Regions from separate parts of the Homo sapiens genome. Here regions 2, 3 and 4 are each linked to region 1. Evidence: fine-mapped expression QTL. A gene starts in region 1. Each other region holds a variant in brackets. All regions are shown on one strand. Distances are between the middles of the regions.

Region 1 (5,148 bases):
TGTGGTGGCGCAATCTCGGCTCACTGCAAGCTCTGCCTCCCAGGCTCAAGTCATTCTTGTGCCTCAACCTCCTGAGTAGCTGGGACTACAGGCATGTGCCACCACACCTGGCTAATTTTTTGTATTTTTGTAGAGACGGGGTTTCACCATGTTGCCCAGTCTGGTCTTAAATTCCGGAGCTCAAACAATCCACCTGCCTTGGCCTCCCAAAGTGCTGGGATTACAGGTGTGAGCCATTGTGCCTGGCCAGTTTTCCCTACTTATTAACATCTTGCATTAGTGTGGTACACTTGTGATAATTGATAACCCAATATTTATACATTATTATTAGCTAAGTTCCATAGTTTACATTAGGGTTTACTCTTTGGATTGTATAGTTCTATGAATTTGACAAATGCATAATGTCATGACAAATGTATGTCATGTATCTGTTATAGCATCATACCGAATCATTTTAGTGCCCCTAAAATCCCCTGTGCTCCACCTATTAATCTCTCCTTCTCTATCCCAAGCCCCAGTAACAACTGATATTTTTATTGTCTCCGTAGTTTTACCTTTTCCAGACTGTCATACAGTTGGAATCATACAGTATGCAGCCTTTTCACACTGGCCCGTTTCACTATGTCTTTTCCTGGCTTGATAATTTTTTATTGATGGAAAATATTCCATTGTATAGCTGTATCACAGTTTGTTTATTCACCTTTTGAGGGACATCTTGGTTGCCTCCAGCTTTTGGCAATTATGAATAAAGCTTTTATAAACATTCATGTGCAGGTTTTTTGTGCAGACATAATTTTCAGCTCATTCAGCTAAATACTTAGGAGTGCTATTGCTGGATCATGTGGTAAGACAATATTTAGCTTTGTAAAAAACTGTCAAACTGTCTTCTACAGTGACTGTACCATTGTGCATTCCCACCAGCAATTAATGAGAGTTCCAGTGGTTCCACATTCTCATTAGCATTTGGATTTTTGAATTTTAATCATTTAATCATTCTAATAGGTGTGTAGTGGTGTCTCACTGTTTTAATTTGCAGTTCGCTAATGACATATGATGTTGACATCTTTTCATGTTTATTTGCCACCTGTATATCTTCTTTGGTCAACTCTTTTGCCCATTTTTAAATTGAGGTATTTTCTTTTTATTGTCACTGAAAAGAGTCAAACTGTAAAACATTTGAAGAGATTTATCCTGAGCCAAATACGAGTGACCAATAGCTCCCCCATGACACAGCCCTCAGGAGATCCTGAGAACATGTGTTCAAGATGGTCGGGCCACAAGTTGGTTTTATAAATTTTAGGGAGATATAAGGTATCAATGAATATATGTAAGATGTACATTCATTTAGTCCAGAAAGGCGGGATAACTGGAAGCAGGGAGGGGGGAGCGGGGCTTCCAGGTCATAGGTAGATTCAAAGATTTTCTGATTGGAAATTGGTGAAAAGAGTTAAGTTATTGTCCAAAGACTTAATAGAAAAGCAATCTGTGAGGACCAAGGTTTTATCAGGTGGACAAAGCTTCCAGGTAGCAGGTTTCAGAGAATAGATTGTAAATGTTTCTTATCAGACTTAAAGAGTCTGTTCTATCAGTAATTCCAAAAGGGAGGAGCATATAATGAAGTGTGTCTGGCTTCCCCTTTCCATCAACGTCTGAACTAGTTTTTCAGATTAACTTTGGAATACCCTTGACTGAGAGGAGGGGTCTATTCAGATGGTTGAGGGGCTTATAATTTTATTTTTGGTTTACATTCTTAATGAGTTGCAAATGAGTTCTTTATTTATTCTGGATGCCAGCCCCTTATCAGATACATGATTTGCAAATATTTTCTCCCATTCTGTGGGTTGTCTTTCCACTTTCTTGATGGTATAATTTGGAGAACAAATGCTTTTATTTTGTGTAGTCAAATGGGGTTTTATCTCCTAGTCACTTGCATTTGTATTGTTTGTGCCAGAATGTGCAGAGGTAGAGATACAAGTAAGCAAGAGGAAGAGGGCAGTGGTAAAAGCAAGAGGAGACCCGACTGTGGAGACAATGAAGCAAAGGGAAGGTGAGACTTGAGTAATGGATGCACCTCTTGCTCTGGGAGCATCTGACCCTTTTTCCAGAGTGGATCCTGTTTGCTGTGAAGCCCAATTTATATGTTTGCTTCACTGCCAGAATCCCGCCCCCATCCCTCCCCACTGCAGGCTTGAGAAGTGGCCTCACAGACACGCCCTTCCCTCTTGACACTTTCATTCCAAATAGCTAGCTTTTCTGTACTTTCTCTGAGAAAGGTAATGTAAATGTAAAAGAAGTTTTTGAGGCTATTCTATAGAAGATGTCATAATTCAATGTTCCTCAAAGGCAGGGACTATATTTATTTTTTTTAAACCTCTCGGCACCTAATGCAAAATCTAGCACACAGACTCCCAAGAAATGTTTGCTTAAAGACGGATAGAGGGCCACAGGGGCAGGTTTTATTAGCAGTTGCTGAAGATGTTGGAATGCAAGGTGTCTCAGGCAGTCTGGACTAGGAAAAAGTTCTGTGTTGAAAACAAGAGAAGCAACGAAATAATTTATTATTCCCATTAAATAAAGATGCTGATGGCTCTCGAGATAGATATGAGGACCCCAGGACTCTGGGGAGTGAAGGAACTAAGCCGCTGCCATATCTGAGCTGAGTACTTAGGGGGAGGAGGAAGAGGAGGAGAAAGGCAAGCAGGAGGAGGCGGAGCCTTCTTGTCAGCATCTGTTAGTGGAGGTTGGGAAGCCTCTCCTCCTTCCCCCTCCCTCTTTGCCTCCACCTGGCTCCTCCCCATGTTCGTCCATCACCCCTCCCCCCTTTCCCAAGGACAATCTGCAAGAAAGCAGCGGCGGAGGAGAGCTAAGACTAAAAGGCAAGAGGGGCCATTGAGTGAAGAGCAAGGGGGAGAGCTGGGAGTGAGGTGGGAAGGTATGGGCCGGGAGCAGGCGGTAGGGAGAACTGAAAGGAGCAGAAAGGAAAAGAAGAGATACGGCATCCTAAGCTGGAGCCGAGAGGGGGATGGGCAGGGCAGTCGTGAAGGATCCTAGCCCCTTGGCCAGTCCCCTCCGCTTGCAGGCTCAGCTGCATTCCCCAGGAATCTGGGATGGGTGGGTGGGGCTCGGACGGGTTGCCCTTGGCTGCCTGACCCTACCCTGGCACTCACCCAATTCAAATCAGTGCTCCTATGATGCTGCTTTTCTGTTCCTCCCTGCCGCGTGCTTATATACGCACGTGATTTTAGAGATATGTTTTAATATCTGTCTGTTTTTGTCTACGTGCGTGTCATTGTGGGTCTGTAAGGGATGCTTATACATGAGTCTGCATGAATTTCTGTGTCCTGTGCCTCTATAACTGTCTTAGAGATTTCAGGAGAAGAATATGAGCGGTTTTTACAGGTCAGCACTCTTAAACTCCTCTTGTTATGGCGAATTTTCTCCCTCACTGACGCTTCCAGGGGTGGAAGAGCTCTGTGTGGGATTCTGCCCCCGTCATGAGCTCCAAGAGTGAATGAGAAGAAAAAACGGGAGGAAAGGGATCAGCATACCCAGATGTCTTGTTTTTTCCTTTCCACCTTTTTGCCTTCCTATTTGCCCTAGTCACTTAATCTTTCTTTTTGGAAAACAGCAGAAATTTGGACATGAACATTCCAGTTAAATAAGAGCGTCTCTAGTCACGCGTGTCTCTATGTTCCTTTCACTGTTTGTCACTATATGATTTCTCAAGTCCAAGTTAAAAGTGTGTTTTAAAGTAGAATATGGAGGTATATCTGTATCTAAGCCGATTTTACATTTTTCATATATTTGTATTTCATGTAGTTCATCAGTTCATTAACGTTTTCAACAAGTATTTATTGGGGTCCTGTAATGTGCATAGACTTTGCAAGTCTTTAGTGAGCTGTGGGAGAGTTTTTAAAAATGATCATGATCCCTGCCCTGGAGGAGTTCTCAGTCTAGTTAGGAAAAATGACTTTAGCAGCCATCCAGTCCAGTGGTTGGCAAACTTCGTCTGTAAAAGACCAGATAGTAAATATTTTAAACTGCAGGCTTATGAGTCTCTGTCACAATATCCATTCTGCTGTTGTAGCACAAAAACATCCATGATAATACGTGAATGAACGAAGGTAGTGCACATACTGAAATTTGAACTTAACATTTTTCACATGTCATGAAGTACTTTTTGCAACCACTAAAAAATATAAAAACCTTTCACAGCTTACTGCCATACAAAAATGTGAGAAGGGCTGGATTTGGCCTACAGGCTGTTGTATGCTGACCCCTGATCTAGTCCAACCCTCTTATCAGTGCGTACGAAACTATTAAAATGCCACATAAAGCAGGCCGAGCATGGTGGTTTATGCCTGTTATCCCAGCACTTTGGGAGGCAAGGTGGGCGGATCACCTGAAGTCAGGAGTTCAAGACCAGCTTGACCGACATGGTGAAAACCCGTCTCAATTAAAAATACAAAAATTAGCCGGGTGTGGTGGTGCATGTCTGTAATCCCAGCTACTCGGGAGGCTGAGGCAGGAGAATCACTTGAACCTGGGAGGCAGTGATCCAGTTTAGACAACATGTGGTTAGAGGAAGTCCAAAAGAAGGTTTCCTTGACCTGTGGTAATCAGTGAAGGTTTAATAAGGGTACAACTATCACTGGTCTTAAATGATGGAATGGGATGTGAATCTGTGGAAAGGGCCAGGGTAGCCACCTGGACAAGGGATGCAGTGTGCCCAGGCACTAAAGTGGGAAGAGCAAAGTAATGTTCAGGTGACAATGGAGCAGAGAATCTATAGGACCAACAGTTGAAGCTATATGCAAGGGCTAAATTGTAGAAGCTTCGAATGCCAACCCAACAAGTTGGGACCTTATTTGTTAGTACTGATTATATGTAGTACGTTCATTAATCTCTGTCTGTTAACACAATGCATGTTTGTGAATGTATGTCTTCATATATGTCTCATTGCATTATTTTATTATTTGTGTGGATTTGGGTGTTTATGTGACTTATGTCTCTATAGGCAGCTACCCTGAGTTCTCCAAATGCAGGGTAGAAGCAAGCACAAGCTGCCCGTAAAACTTGGGTTCCTGTGAATGAATACACATCTCCACTGAAGCCTAGGGACCTATGACCTTCCTATGAAGGTTTATT
Region 2 (5,148 bases), 24 kb after region 1:
TGGGGGCTCCGGCTGCAGGCATGAATGCTGCTGTTCGCTCCACTGTGAGGATTGGCCTTATCCAGGGCAACCGAGTGCTCGTTGTCCATGATGGTTTCGAGGGCCTGGCCAAGGGGCAGGTATGGGGACTATTCTGGGACCTAGGAGCAGTCATGGGGAAGATAAGTGTAGCAAGAATGACCTGTCCATTCTCTTGGCTTCCTCTGTTCCTCACTACCTCTCTCTCCTCTCTCAGGGTCCAGGCAGAAGTAGATATTTAATACTAGGGCAGTAGGAACAGCAGGAATTACTGCAGTGAACCATTGCAAACAACATGTCTTATTTAATTCTCTGTCCCAAAGCTCAGCACAGTGCCTGGCATAGGTAGATGCTTAATATTTGTGAATGAGCAGTAAGGGTAGAAGAAGTTGAGTGCGTGGGGAAAAGCTAATACCTGGTGTACCTTTTCCAACCAAGGGGGATCCAGGGGTAGGGTTAGAACTCAAGCAGTGGCACCAGTCCCACACAGGCCTCCTAGTGCTTTAGCCTTGTGCAGAGCTCTGTGGCTTATCCCCACAGATAGAGGAAGCTGGCTGGAGCTATGTTGGGGGCTGGACTGGCCAAGGTGGCTCTAAACTTGGGACTAAAAGGTAAGTAGCACTGCAGAGGCACCTCCTCCCAGTCACCTCTTAAAGTTGCCCTTGGATGTGGGTTCATTATGCCATGGTCTGCTTCAACCACCCTGTTGTCTGGGTCCTCCACCCTCAACCTCACAGTTGCTGCCATGAGGGCAGACATGCCCATCTCAACATCTTTAGCAGCTCTGGCAACTTAGAGCTCCAGTATGTATCCTTGGATAGGACTGAGAGGGTGGGCTAGGGAGGGCGGCACAGGTCAAGAAATTAAAAATAAAGTGCCTCTAACTCTAGCTTTTCTCCCCCTCAATTTTCCTGTCTCTTCCCCAAATTCCAATTCCCCTTCCCCTCCCCGCCATCACTGATCAACTAGGACTCTACCCAAGAAGAGCTTTGAACAGATCAGTGCCAATATAACTAAGTTTAACATTCAGGGCCTTGTCATCATTGGGGGCTTTGAGGTGAGTGCCTGCCACCATTTCTTCCTCTCTCCCTCCTACCTCCTCTCCCTCTCCCCAATCCTGCCCTTGTGCTCTCTTCTTCTTAGGCTTACACAGGGGGCCTGGAACTGATGGAGGGCAGGAAGCAGTTTGATGAGCTCTGCATCCCATTTGTGGTCATTCCTGCTACAGTCTCCAACAATGTCCCTGGCTCAGACTTCAGCGTTGGGGCTGACACAGCACTCAATACTATCTGCACAGTGAGAGCCTATCACCACTTCCCATCCCTTTTGGCCAGGATTATAATCCTTAAACTGAGTGTGGTCCCAAACAGTGAGCTACTCTTTATATCAAGCAAATGGGAATGTTTGAAAATGATTCTTCAGCTGGGCATGGTGGCTCACACTTCTAATCCCAGCACTTTGGGAGGCCAAGGCAGGCAGATCACTTGGGGTCAGGAGTTCAAGAGCAGCCTGGCCAACATGGTGAAACCCCATCTCTACTAAAAATACAAAAACTAGCTGGGTGTGGTGGTAGGCGCCTGTAATCCCAGCTACTTGGGAGGCTGAGGCAGGAAAATTGCTTGAACCTGGGAGGCGGAGGTTGCAGTGAGCAGAGATCGTGCCACTTTACTCCAGCCTGGGTGACAAAGTGTTCAGTTTCCTCACCTAGAAATGCACCAGTACCCTGAATACCAAATGTTTTGTTTGTTTTTTTTTTTCTTTCTGAGATCATGCAGTCTAATTTTCTGAGCAGTAGAAAGGATAGGTACAGCTTTCTTCCCAGGAGAGACGTTCTGCAGTGAGGTTGGCAAATATGCCTGTTACCCTAAATGCAAGAACTTGATGAGCTCTAAGGGCCCTGCTAGCCTATGGAGAATATAGTTCCAGGGTTTAATTAATGGCAAAGATTAAAGAGTGATAAGAATCAGGCCCCTGATCATGTCTTTCTAACTATAACCCATTGTCCTTGCAGACCTGTGACCGCATCAAGCAGTCAGCAGCTGGCACCAAGCGTCGGGTGTTTATCATTGAGACTATGGGTGGCTACTGTGGCTACCTGGCTACCATGGCTGGACTGGCAGCTGGGGCCGATGCTGCCTACATTTTTGAGGAGCCCTTCACCATTCGAGACCTGCAGGTAGCTGGCCACCCAGAGCCTGCTAGATAGCTCTCCCCTGTCTCCAGACTGTTTCCACAGTGATCTGAACTATGAGAGCTCAAGTTGAGGACCGAGCTGATTGGTCTGTAGAATCCTGTGAAGACCAGAAAGAGCACTATGCAGGCATTCTCTGGTGTCACCTCATATGCATGACCGCAGCTACTGTTGTTGGAATGCTGATTTTGAGTCAGGCGACCTGGTGCTAAGCCCTTTATGGGCATTTTTGCATTTTATCTTCACAATAGACATGCAAAGAAGATACTATCTCCATATAACATAGAAAGTTTAGAGAGGTTAAAAAACTTTTCTAAACTCCTAAGTGAGCAGATGGTTTAAGTGGTTGAGAAAGTCAGTGATCTTTTTACTACATCATGTCTCCCCTTCAGATTTCCCTTGCTGTCATTCTGCTTTTGAGAGAGATACTCT[C/T]TCAAAACAGAGATATAAAGTGTCAACACTGACACTGTGACCACAAGTCAGCCCTCTGAGGCAAGGGGAACCAGAAAGGCTTGGAAAGGGAGATTGGAGAGGGTGAGGGGCTGAACACTGACAGTTACTGCAGCTGTCTGTAGTGCTCCCTCTTCCAGTTCTGTCTCATTTGGAGTCATTGTTTAAATTTCAGTCCACACTGAGCTTCTTACAGGAATTAGGCACAGTTCAGGCCCAGGATTGTAAACAACTCTCTTCCATGTGTCTCTTCCTTCCTGGAGAGGTGTGGTGTGGAAGATGATTTATACCCAACCTTATCCATTCCCAGTTAGGCTTAGGATTTACTCTTTCATTTTCAGGCAAATGTTGAACATCTGGTGCAAAAGATGAAAACAACTGTGAAAAGGGGCTTGGTGTTAAGGTACCTCATCCATGGTTTGTTCCTAAATGAAGAAGAAAAATAAGCTTTGGCTCAAACCCATAGAATGGCCATTGTTGGGACACCCTGAGGAATCTGTAGATATAAAGGGAGGGGGCCAGCCTATCCCTTGAATCCTTGGAGGAGATAAAAATTGAAAGGAAAGAACAAAGGCAGAAATGGGGGATGGGAAGCCAACCACAGAGTCACAGGCTTTTGGTCTCCACCTGGCAGGAATGAAAAGTGCAATGAGAACTATACCACTGACTTCATTTTCAACCTGTACTCTGAGGAGGGGAAGGGCATCTTCGACAGCAGGAAGAATGTGCTTGGTCACATGCAGCAGGTAGGGAAGACACCGTAGTCATGCCCTTCATCAGACAGCCATACCTGCCAACAGCCATACCTGCCAACAGCCACTGAGGCTTCCACTGGCCTTTTCCAGTCTTCTGGAGGAGCCTGTCAGTGCCATCATAGAGCATGGGCCTGCAGTCTCTTACAGTCATAGAATCAAAACATCTTTATCCTGGAAATGACTTTAGAGATTATATGGTCTATCCTTTTCAAAAGCCCTCATGGGAGGGCTTTTCAACCTTGGCAGCTTTGCCTTTTGGGGCTGGATGATAATTTGTCATGGGTGGCTGTTCTATGCACTGTAGGACAGTTGCACAGCATCCCTGGTCTCTACCCACTAGATGCCAGTAGCACCTCCCTCTCACTCCCAATTGTAACAAAAATGTCTCCAAACATTCCCACTTTCCCACCTGCTTCCTCTTAATTCAAAGGAAATCTGTATGATGTTTTATATTAATTCTGAGGTGCTACCAAGGGCAGCCAGATTGGGCCACAAAAAAAACACTTTTATGTCATCATTGACAGTGATCAACAAAAGCTGCTGGGCTGAAGAGGGGCAGGCAGCTGACCCATTGGCCAATAAAACTAAAACAGGATCTGGCAGCTGTGGAGCTAAAAGAGGGGATTGTGGGGCCAATCATCTTTAATTAGTTGTTATTATATCTGATACATGGCCAAATTTGCTGGGCCAGCTTGCCTTGGATCCTGGCACTGCCTCAGGGCACCCTTTCATAGTTTGACTTCTGGATTCCTGTTTTGGGCTGTAAGCCTGGGGCCCATCTTTCTTTTTTTCTCTGTGTGTCTAGATATCTCTGCCACTTCATTAGAGTCCTTCCCTCTGTAATTTTTATGTTTCTTTCTCCAGGGTGGGAGCCCAACCCCATTTGATAGGAATTTTGCCACTAAGATGGGCGCCAAGGCTATGAACTGGATGTCTGGGAAAATCAAAGAGAGTTACCGTAATGGTAGGTGGGGTGAGAGCGAGTGCCCTCTATAGAGGCTGGTTCCCCAGTATAGAAGCTGACTGCCCATCCCTCATTGCAGGGCGGATCTTTGCCAATACTCCAGATTCGGGCTGTGTTCTGGGGATGCGTAAGAGGGCTCTGGTCTTCCAACCAGTGGCTGAGCTGAAGGACCAGACAGATTTTGAGTGAGTACATCTGCTTCCTGGAGTGGTTCTTTTCCCTGGTAGTTTCAAGCTCTACTGTCCTCAACCTGTTCACTGTCTTTAATTCTTTTTTTTTTTTAAGGAGTAACACCTGTATTCTTACCCATTTCAGATGTGATGCACATGTCCTAAATCTAACCTCTTCTGTCTAACTTCTTCCTATAAACCTTTGGTAGAAGTTGATTGGGGTGCTAAAAGATTATATCATCATCTACCTCATTCCTCTGTAGGCATCGAATCCCCAAGGAACAGTGGTGGCTGAAACTGAGGCCCATCCTCAAAATCCTAGCCAAGTACGAGATTGACTTGGACACTTCAGACCATGCCCACCTGGAGCACATCACCCGGAAGCGGTCCGGGGAAGCTGCCGTCTAAACCTCTCTGGAGTGAGGGGAATAGATTACCTGATCATGGTCAGCTCACACCCTAATAAGTCCACATCTTCTCAGTGTTTTAGCTGTTTTTTTCATTAGGTTTCCTTTTATTCTGTACCTTGCAGCCATGACCAGTTCTGGCCAGGAGCTGGAGGAGCAGGCAGTGGGTGGGAGCTCCTTTTAGGTAGAATTT
Region 3 (5,148 bases), 290 kb before region 1:
GCCCTCACCTGCTCTCCTTTGTGCTTGGGGTCTGAGGAAACCCAGAACAGTGATTCTAGAAATCTCTGCCTCAACAGATCCCTCACTCCAGCTTGGTCTAAATGGCTAGGGGTGGGAAGGCAGAGGAGGCAGAGACAATGTGCAGACATCTCCCTTGGGCAGGCCCTGAGTCCTGGGCTCCAGGGTTCCCTGCACTGAGCATTTTTTTTTTTTTTTAGACAGAGTTTGGCTCTTGTTGCCCAAGCTGGAGTGCAATGATGCAATCTCGGCTCACTGCAACTACTGCCTTCCGGGTTCAAGCGATTCTCCTGCCTCAGCCTCCCGAGTAGCTGGGATTACAGGCACACACCACCACACCTGGCTAATTTTTTTGTATTTTTAGTAGAAACAGGGTTTCACCATGTTAGCCAGGCTGGTCTTGAAGTCCTGACCTCAGGTGATCCACCTGTCTCGGCCTCCCAAAGTGCTGGGATTACAGGTGTGAGCCACCATGCCTGGCCCCCTGCACTGAGCTTTTAAGAGATCATTTAGGCCTGCGTGGTGGCTCACACCTGTAAACCCAGCATTTTGGGAGGCTGAAGTGGGCAGATTACCTGAGGTCAGGAGTTCAAGACCAGCCCGGCCAACATGGCAAAACCCCGTCTCTACTAAAAACACAAAAATTAGCCAGGCGTGGTGGCAGGCACCTGTAATCTCAGCTACTCCGGAGGCTGAGGCAGGAGAATTGCTTGAATCCAGAAGGCAGAGTTTGCAGTGAGCTGAGATCGTGCTACTGCATTCCAGCCCGGGTGACAGAGTGAGACTCCACCTCAAAACGAAAGAAAGAAAAAAAGAGATCATTTAAAAGTACCCAGAAGAATGGACAGAGTGAGGAGGTGTTGTACTGTGGTTAAGAGCAAGGATTTGGTGTCGAGCTGCTTGGGCTGGAGCTTGTTGCTTCCCCACTGCTTGACCTTACGTATATTATTTAACCTTGAGGAGTCTTGGTTTCCCATCTGCAGATTAGGGTATGAAGTGCCTGCTATATTAGGGTTTTGCGAGGACCGATGAGATTGGGACATGAAGTACTTAACTACAGTGCCTGGCACACATTGGGCTGTTAGGGACAGAGCTCCAATGCTCACATCAGTAATAGAAGAGAGACAGTGTCCTGTCTCTTCTGTCTCCCTAAGCCTGTTTTCCTCTATAATTTGAGGTCTCAAAGTGAGCACTGAGCTGATTTATGCAAATGAATCCAGTAGGGCCTATCGCCCAAGCTGACCTTTCTAGGGTATACAGGGTAGCTTGGCCAGGCTACAGAAATGGGAAAATAGGTGCAACCTTCCTGATCCTCCTGAAATCCTCAAGTGTTGTCTTGAAGTTGAGGGGAACCAGGACCAGGCTGCGGGGAGTACCACAGGGACTGCAGAAAGGGCCTGGCCTCCCCTCCCGAAACACTGCACATCTGGAGTGATCTGCCCATCTGGCTGTATCCCTGGGGCAATGGCCACAGCTGCTATTTGAGGGAGGAGACATCCAGCTCCTTAGCCAGGGCCTGGGGCCGGGGGGTGGGGGGGTGGTGGGTAGTGGGGGCTATAAATAAGAGGACCAGGGGGGCAAGGTTGACCTTTTGGGGCGGGGGGCAGGAGCTGGTGACTTCCCCCTCTTTGCTTGAGTCCAGAGCCAGAGTTTTAGCAAAACAGGAAGAGGCAGCAGCAGCTTCTGGGAAAGTGGGAGTGGCTCCCCTTCCCCCACTTGCCTGGGGCCTTCGGATCCCAGCCAGGACCTGGGAGAGGTGGAGTCATCTAGGCAAGGAGAGGGAGGGGCAGACCCACGCAGACTGGGCCCCAGCTTCAGTGCCCTCAAATGGCGCAGCCGGGGCACAGGAAAAGGAGAATGAGACAGAGAAGGGCAGCCCAATGGAGTATATCTGCCACCCCTCGTCCCCTCCTGTTCCCTTCTATAGGCATTAGAAATGGAGCTCAAAATGTGCCTGTGACCCAGGTAGTGTACATGGAAGTTCGAGGTCAAGTTGAGCACACCTCCATCTCTCATCCCCTCCCAGCCTGTGGTGAGCTAAGCCTAAGACAGAGTGCGTGGGAGGGAGGGCTCTAGACAGGAGGAAGGACACCTCTGGGCTTCTGGAAAGAGATCCAGGACCTGGCCCAGGTGGAGTGATAGAAAAATCTTCCAATGAACTATCAAGGTGAGGGGATCCAAAGGTCTGGGTGGTCCTGGGTGAGTGTTTTTCCAGAATAATGGGGCATCTACAGGGACAAGCTCAGGAGAGCTAAGCCTCAGTCCAGAGACCCTCATGAAGTCAAAGACTGAAGGAATTATCCAGGAAATGTTGCCTGGCTTTGCTTCGCCTGAGTGAGGCTGGCCACTGAGAATCTGTCCTTCAGTGTCTGTCTGGAGACATCTGGTTGGAGCTCTGGCTGGCCCACACCTGTAGTAGGGCCTGCACCTGTGTCTGTCATGTACTGCCCTTGTCTCCCGAGCCTGGAGCCCCACACTTCACCTGCTGGGAGGGTCTAGATAAGCGCTGTCCAATAGAAACGGAATGTGAGCCACATATGTAACTTATTTTCTATTAGCCACATCAAAAAAAGGAAAAATAAACAGGTGAAATTCATTTTAGTAGTATATTTATGTAACCTAATATAGTAAATCTAAAACATTATTTTGGTATGCAATCAAAATAAAAAATTACTAATGAAATCTTTTACATTTTTTTTCCATACTAAGTGTTTGAAAGCCAGTGTATATTTTATACTAACAGCACATTTCAATTCTGACTGGCCACATTTCAAGTGCTTAGTAGCCACATGTGGCCACTGGCTACTGTATGGACAGCACAAGTTTAGACTTATAGCTTTACCTCTTCTTCATCCCTTCCAGTCTCTTATTGGGGAAGAGGCTCAAGAGGTGAAGGAAAAAGCTGGTGAGGCCAGTGTTAAGGGTTAATTTGCTCTAGGAGGGTGACCACTCCCTTTGGGTTTCAAGCATCTATCTCTAGACCTG[G/T]ATCCGTTTTAGTGTCCAGGCAGGCAAGGAAATTGAGGCATAGAGCAGCATCTTCCCTGACAACTGGCCTTCTCCTGCCCTTCCCAGTGCTCCTTCTCTGAGCAGAAGGTTGATAGAATCCGATTACCTCTTCAGGCGCATTAGCCTCCACCTTCCTCTTTCCTCTTCCAAAAGCGACTCCAAACCCAAAGGTATTTGAGTAGCTGAGTTAAGGAATATGGGAGGAGAAGCAAATTTGGAGGAAAATGCAGAATGGAGCTTTGCACAGGTGGAGTTTGAGGTGTTGGTGGGATGAGCAAGGGGGGTTGTTGAGTGGACAGTTGGTATCTGGAGCTCAGGGAAGAATTTGGAGGTCATCAGTGAGAGAGGAAATTGTAGGAATGAATGACACCACAAGAGCAGGGGAGAAGAGAGGAGAGAAGGGGAGGGCAGGGAAGATGGCTAAATACAGAAACCTGAGAAAACAAAGACTTCAGATGGGCGAGGAGTGGAAGCTGGAGCAGGCCGGGAGCAGTCACAGATTTCAATGAAGCAAGAGGAAGTGCATCGGAATCCCAAGTGGGAGAGAATATCAAGAAGGAGAGACTCGCACACGGTTGCAGTTGACAATGCTTTAAAATCATTTTTTTGTTGTTGTTTGTTTTTGTTTGAGATGAAGTCTTGCTCTGTGGCCCAGGCTGGAGTGCAATGGCATGATCAGGGCTCACTGCAACCTCCGACTCCCAGGTTCAAGTGATTCTCCTGCCTCAGCCTCCCGAGTAGCTGGGACTACAGGCACCCGCCACCAAGCCCGGCTAATTTCTATATTTTTAGTAGAGACAGGGTTTCACCATGTTGGCCAGGCTGGTCTGACCTCAGGCAATCTGCCTGCCTCGGCCTCCCAAAGTGCTGGGATTACAGGTATGAGCCACCGCACCCGGCCCTAAAATCATTCTTATAAAGAGAGCTCACACAAACTGTTAAGAAGCACTAGAACAGTGGAGACTAAAGTTCAAAGCCCAGAAACAGACTCTCCTGGTACAGAGGAAACACAACTCACAAGCAGAGGTAGGGGTATGTTCAACCTGATCGTCCTCAAAGTAATGCCAATTAAAATGAGACAAAGGTAGGTGCCTTTTTGAAACATTAGCGAGAGCTCGGTGAAGTGTGTGTGCTGTCGGTAATGGCGTAACCTCTTTTGAAATCAGTTTGGCAATATATAGTAAGAGCTATAATGTGCTGTTACCCTTTGGCTCAATAACCCCACCCAGTGTATCCTAAACTAGATTTCTATAGTCAAAATTGGGGGAGGAGGAGCGGAGTATGTGCCTAATGATGTCCCCCATCACACTGCCTATAATATAGAAAATTAGAGACAATTTGAACACTTATGATTGGAAAATTGTGGAGGTAAATTATGATACTATATTTCCACTTAATAGAAAACTATGAAGCTGTTAGGAAGATGTTTATATGCAACACAGCATCACAAGAGAATAGAGATTGGTACATACCCCATGATTGCAACTGTATTAAAAAACATATAGGCATGGAGGAGAAGGTGAAGAGGAAATATGTGTCATAGGTAATGATTATGTAGGGTGGAATGGGTATATATGGTTTTGGTCTCATTTAATGAGTCTTAACATTGCGGAGAGCGGGAATGAGGGTTGACCAGAAGCTGAGATTTGGGTCTCAGCTATAGCAAGGGCCCTGACAACCTTCCAGAGGCCACAAATGCATTTATCTGGCAACTTAATAGACTGAGCTCCGACCGCAAGGCAGGTGCGGTCACTGTGGGTATCAACTCAGCATTCTCCTGATAGGAAAAAGCCCACCGTGAGGGGTGATGGCCAGGTGCTCACTGCAGATTCCCTCCCATATATGGGAGGCTCCTGGAGCTCCATAGTCTCCTCTACTACTGCTGAGGAGCAGGCCATGGCAGGCGCCTGTGGGGACAGCCCCCAGAGGACAGGGCTGACTGCAGGAGGAACAGAGCATCACAGTGAGGTGAGCTCAGCGGGTATGAGGGCCTCTCTGCTTTGGGGTGGGGGTTGGCGGGCTGTGGTCGGCCACCTGCTGTTTCACATCACCCCCTGAAGGTGACATGAGATGCAGGGGCCATCACCTTCACGGCGCCCCCAGGAACTCTACCCGGGCCCCCAC
Region 4 (5,148 bases), 110 kb before region 1:
CACAGCCTTATTGGGAAAGATATTTGTAGACAGGCTGTAAAGAAAAGATATCTTTCTCTTCCTCTACACAAATCCCATTTAAAAATAGTGATAAAGTGAAGAAGGATTCACATTCCAAAGAGGTAAGCCCACCCCAAATATGGCAGGTGGTGAATGCACAGACTTCACACAGCAGCCGTGCCTGGGGGTGGTGAGCCCAGCTTACTCAGTGACACTCAGCTTCTGTTGGTTGGGCTCCGTTCAGACAGTCTTTCAAGATGTGTTTATGTTTTCCTTTGGCATTTTGGGGGCAGAGTAACAGAATCAAGACTGTCCAGGATAGGGTTTTCCAGATTTATGGTGTACATTCCATTCCATAGGAGCATAAATGTGTTACTATGTATTCTCAAATGCAAATAGCACCAAGAATCCCACCCAGTCTCCTCCATCCTGTCCTAGTGCCATACAAATTCAGCTTAGGACTCGTACTGAGCACCTACTTCTGTATGAGATGGGGATACAGAGAGGATTTAGATACCACCTCTGCATCTGTAGGGGAAATAGGAAAAAAATGATTGTACAAAATGCTGCAAAAAAGGTATCCCACTCTCCCCAACCCCCTAAAAAAAAAGAAGAAGAAAGAAACAGAAAGAAAGGAAAGAAAGAATGGCATTCTGGAAGCCATGGAGTAAGCTGGGGGGAGGTTTCCTAAGAGAAGCATGTCTCCAAGCATGGGTGGGGGTTTGAAATGCAGAGGTACAGTGAGAGGGCAGGATGGCTCCCAAATGGAAGCAACGAAGGGCAGATGCACCAGAAGACATGGCAGTGGCCCCAGGACAATGTGGAGCCATCTGCAGGGCCCTGGGAATAAGACATGGCAGTAAGGGGTGAAGGCAAGGCCAGACATGGAGGACTCCTTGAATGCCACCGAGTCAGGCTCAGATCTACGTTTCTTCTCACTTTCCCCTCTTCTTCTTACCTCCTACTAGCTAGACCTTTGCGGGAAAAGATAAAGGTGTCTGGGCTTTTTAAAGGCTTACATTTTGAAGAAATGTCTGTATTTTTATACAGAAATGATCTTCCCATTTCACTTTAAAAACAAAGACAACAAAAGTCGTGCGAAATATTGCATTTTCTTAAGGTGGGTAGCTTTCTGCCTTTAAGGAGCATTTGTCTCTCTCATCAGCTCTTGATGGTTCTGAGCTCTAGGAAGAACACAAATGCTTAAATGCAGAGATGTTTGAGCACTCCCAGCAGAAGTTCCATGTGAAGCAAATGGTTCTACAGTAAACCACAACCATTCCCAACAGCCACAGAGCATCTGTTCCAGGCACTTCTCAAGCAATAACACAACATGGGGGTTCCAAGGGATACCCTTTGAGAGGTCAACAACCCACGAGACAGGTGGAACTCTCTCTCCCCATCTCTCTCCCTTCCTTGAACTCCTATTGCATTTGGGTATGGCCAGTTCTATGGAGTTATGCCTTTAGATCATCATCCATCCATCTGTCCATCCATCCATCCCTTCCTCCCTCAAACATGTGAAGAAATCCCATGTGAGTCTATTCACATGCCTCCTTGAGAGCAGGGGCCATAACTTAATACACTTAACTTTTCCCCTGCAAAGCCTGCTTGGCACAGTGCGGTCACATAGTAAATGTGGTCCATGGACCAGCGGCATCAACCTACCCTGGGATCTTGTTGGAAAAGCCGAACCTACCAAATCAGAGTTGGCTTTTACTAAACTCTCCAGATAACTCATATGCCCATGAAGGCTGGAGATGTGCTGGTCTAAATCTTGGTCCACGGAAAGTTCCATACGACCCTGGCTAACAGAGGGGTGTGGTCTGCATGGTCTGCAGTCACACATGACTGGGCTCAGGCCTGCACTGGAGGCAGACAAGGCAAGGAGGAGCCTGAGTTAAAGGTGGCAGAAAGGAGAAGTGAGTTTTAAGGAGAGGAATGGATGGAGGACCCTAAAGGAGATGATGGATGCATGACTTTGTAAAGCCTCCTGCGGTCTTTTTTTAAAGCAGGTGGTGGGTCACTTTTCCTATGTCCCTTTTTTCCAGTAGGAATTGGGCTCAGTGCAAGGAAGAGACTGACCCATGATTAGAACTGGAGCCCTGGATTCCATGGAGACAGTGTCAGGGCAGAGCCAGCAGGGGAGCGGAGTCAGCCACCTGAGCCTCCTTCCCGTGGTGGCCCCTTAGCCCTGCCCCCCAGGGACTCCTGACTGATGAACTCCTCCTAGGTGGGACATACCAAGGAAAGCAAGGAGCTAACTATGATGTCCCTAGGACTAGTAGGGTAGATGCCACCTCAGAGAAAGCCAGGCCCCTGCAAACCAAGTTTATCCTGCTCCAGTGCGGGGGGCGGGGGGCAGTGGGCCTGCCCTCTAGGAAGTCCCTGAAAAGCCCCAGGGAACATACATGTGGTAAGTTTCTAGTGAGCTCCTTTGCCAAAAACAACCTTGAGAGGGAGCAGGACAGTGCATGCTGCCCTTCCCCATGAGGGCCCCTCAGCTGTCCCCACACCCAGCACCTATCCGGAGGCAGCCAGGGCCCCATTGTGTTCTGCACCGCCCCGATCTCCACTCCAGCCTCCAGGCCAGCTCCTTAGCTGATCACCCACCCACTGCCCTTGACACTCTCCCTCCCAGAATCCTGGGTGCAAAATCTTGGGGTCCTGCTCGACTGTCTCCCCTTACTCTATCCTCCCTCCTGTCCCATTCCCCCTCTCATTCCTCGGCCAGCATTTCTTCATCCCCTGTGTTGAGCACAAGCTATGCGCCAGGCACTTGCTAGGTGGTATGGAGGGACAAAAGAAAGCTCTATTAGACATGAATCCTACATGCAAGGAGATGACTACCTCTCGGGGGATACACAAAAAGCCAAACTGTAAGGTAAACAAGTTATAATATATTGTGATGTCATGTGGCATTCTATGATGTGCTGTAGCACAATACAATGTCATGGACAGAAGCGCTCTGTTCTGCCCTTTCACTGAAAATAGCTCTTCCTGACACAGGCTTGGGTAGTGAAAGCAGCTTGGTCACATCTGTCCCATGGTGTAACTAATCTTTAGGATCTGCAGAGACCTGCCTTCCTCTGCAATTGTAACTGTACCTCCAATCGTGAGTTTCGTCTGGCAGCTTAACTGGGCTACCAGCGAGGTCCTCATAATGGCTTTTGCTCCTTGCCTCGCGGAGACCCGACTCTGGAATCCTTAGCCAGTGGTATATGAGCTTCTTTCTCATGGGGGATAG[G/A]AGGAAAGAATCCTGCATGTGCCCCAGTTTCCTCCCATGCAAGCCTGTCAAGAGGCCCATCTTTATCCTAAAAGTGCCTAGAGGCTGGGCGCGGTGGCTCACGCCTGTAATCCCAACACTTTGGGAGGCCGAGGCGGGCGGATCACCTGAGGTCAGGAGTTCGAGACCAGCCTGACCAACATGGAGAAACTACTAAAAATACAAAAAAATTAGCCGGGCATGGTGGCGGGCACTTGTAATCCCAGCTACTTGGGAGGCTGAGGCAGGAGAATCGCTTGAACCTGGGAGGTGGAGGTTGCAGTGAGCCGAGATTGTGTCATTGCACTCCAGCCTGGGAAACAAGAGCGAAACTCCGTCTCAAGAAAAAAAAAAAGTGCCTAGAAACTTACCACATTCTTAATGCTTTCCTGGGTAAAAATACAAAGAAGTGAGGGTTGGCTGCCTTTTAATTTCCCCAGATTAGATGCTGCAACTGCACTTCCTGGCTCCGTCCTCTTGAGCAAGTGAATTCGCTTCTCTGAGCATCAGAGAAGTAATCGGTAAAACAGGGATAATAGTAATTTACTCATGGGCTTGTTGTGAGCAGTAAATGAAGTAACAAACATAAAGCCTCGGGAGAATGCTTTACACGGGAGGCTTAGAGTAAATGTTTATTATTGCAAGTACTACTCTTCTTGGTCTGCATCTGATTTATTTACCCTTCCTGCACACACCTGCCGTACCACAAATAGACAATATCATTTATCTGTTTTTAATTTGGGTCTCATAAAAATTTTTGTCTTAAGTTATGTTTGCATGAGTTTGGATTATAGCTGATACGATCTAGGTTGATTGATGAATATCCTGGAATTTAAGGTATAGCGCTGAAAACATCTTAATTGTTTTAAAATCTGTTAGGAATAAAAACTAGATTAAGAAACTTTCAATATTACCTGGAAAAAAAAAAAACTTGGCACTGGGGATAAGTGGCCCCAATTCTTCAGCACAAGTTTTCCCTAAGAAGAACAGGAACTTCTAAATTGATCATAAAGGCTCGGAAGGCTTGGATAGGTATTGGCCTTCTCATTAGTTACCAGCTTAAACAAAAAGATAAGTATGATATAACTGTGGGAAGATTACTATTTGGGAAAAAACTGTCTGCAAGGCCTTTTAAATTTGGTTTGATAAGAAGCTCTAAAGGATCTAACTCAAAAAAATAAGAGGGAAAAGCTGGTCCTTCTCATGTCTGGATAGTGCCAATACTATATTTTGTAGTCAGAAACAGTTTAAAGTGAGTGAAAAAGATACCTGATTGTATATAGGTGTTTCTGTTTCTTTAAATCTTGCTTGGAGTTTTGTAACTTTAATTCTAAATTACCTATCCTGATTCTCCATGATCTTTGTACTTAGTTGTATTAATAAAAGTTTCTAGTTTGTAGGGAAGATGTATTTAAATAGAAAAGTGAGGCTGGGTGTGGTGGTTCATGCCTGTAATCCCAGCACTTTGGGAGGCTGAGGTGGGAGGATCGCTTGAGCCCAGGAGTTCGAGACCAGACTGGGTAATATAGCAAGACCCTAGCTCTACAAAAACATTTAAAAATTTAGCTGCGTGTGGCATTCATGTCTGTTGCCCTAGATACTGGAGAGGCTGAGGCAGGAGGATCACTTTAGCACGGGAGGTTGAGGCTGCAATGAGCCATGATTGTACCACTGTACTCCAGCCTAGGTGACAGAGCAAGACCCTGTCTTAGAAAAAAAGAAAGAAATCTTAATTGAAAAAAAAAAAAAAAGAAAAAGAAAAAAGAAAAGTACACGTGCCAGGTCATTCAGACTCAGTCCTCAGATAAAACAGAGTTCACCTGTGACAGAGGGTCACAATTGCAGGCAAAGTGCCCAGGAGTGCTGACTTGGCAAATGCAACC

What was found. PIP is the estimated chance that this variant, and not a neighbour inherited with it, causes the effect.
Region 2: its variant is the best candidate, but not a certain one, in a credible set for the expression of PFKM in whole blood (TOPMed, PIP 0.87).
Region 3: its variant is the best candidate, but not a certain one, in a credible set for the expression of PFKM in NK cells (Gilchrist 2021, PIP 0.57).
Region 4: its variant is the best candidate, but not a certain one, in a credible set for the expression of PFKM in whole blood (INTERVAL, PIP 0.69).

What each region holds. Positions count from the first base shown.
Region 1 is chr12:48,116,531-48,121,678 of GRCh38, forward strand. PFKM (phosphofructokinase, muscle) reads left to right here and starts at 2,834. Exons shown (of 23, transcript NM_000289.6): 1 at 2,834-2,876. RefSeq lists an enhancer at 2,430-2,499.
Region 2 is chr12:48,140,753-48,145,900 of GRCh38, forward strand. It overlaps PFKM (phosphofructokinase, muscle), which reads left to right. Exons shown (of 23, transcript NM_000289.6): 14 at 1-119; 15 at 559-629; 16 at 988-1,075; 17 at 1,162-1,314; 18 at 2,030-2,194; 19 at 3,001-3,062; 20 at 3,294-3,405; 21 at 4,279-4,378; 22 at 4,458-4,563; 23 at 4,812-5,148. The coding sequence ends at 4,956. Among named protein-coding and RNA genes, the nearest start is that of MIR6505, 11 kb to the left of the region's middle. RefSeq lists an enhancer at 1,679-2,660 and a silencer at 2,292-2,466. The variant C/T (reference allele first, on the strand shown) is at 2,642.
Region 3 is chr12:47,827,346-47,832,493 of GRCh38, forward strand. LINC02354 (long intergenic non-protein coding RNA 2354) reads left to right here and starts at 1,812. Exons shown (of 3, transcript XR_007063292.1): 1 at 1,812-2,185. RefSeq lists enhancers at 771-950, 4,687-4,736. The variant G/T (reference allele first, on the strand shown) is at 3,004.
Region 4 is chr12:48,008,342-48,013,489 of GRCh38, forward strand. No RefSeq gene overlaps it. Among named protein-coding and RNA genes, the nearest start is that of COL2A1, 6.4 kb to the left of the region's middle. RefSeq lists enhancers at 2,005-2,506, 2,507-3,006. The variant G/A (reference allele first, on the strand shown) is at 3,248.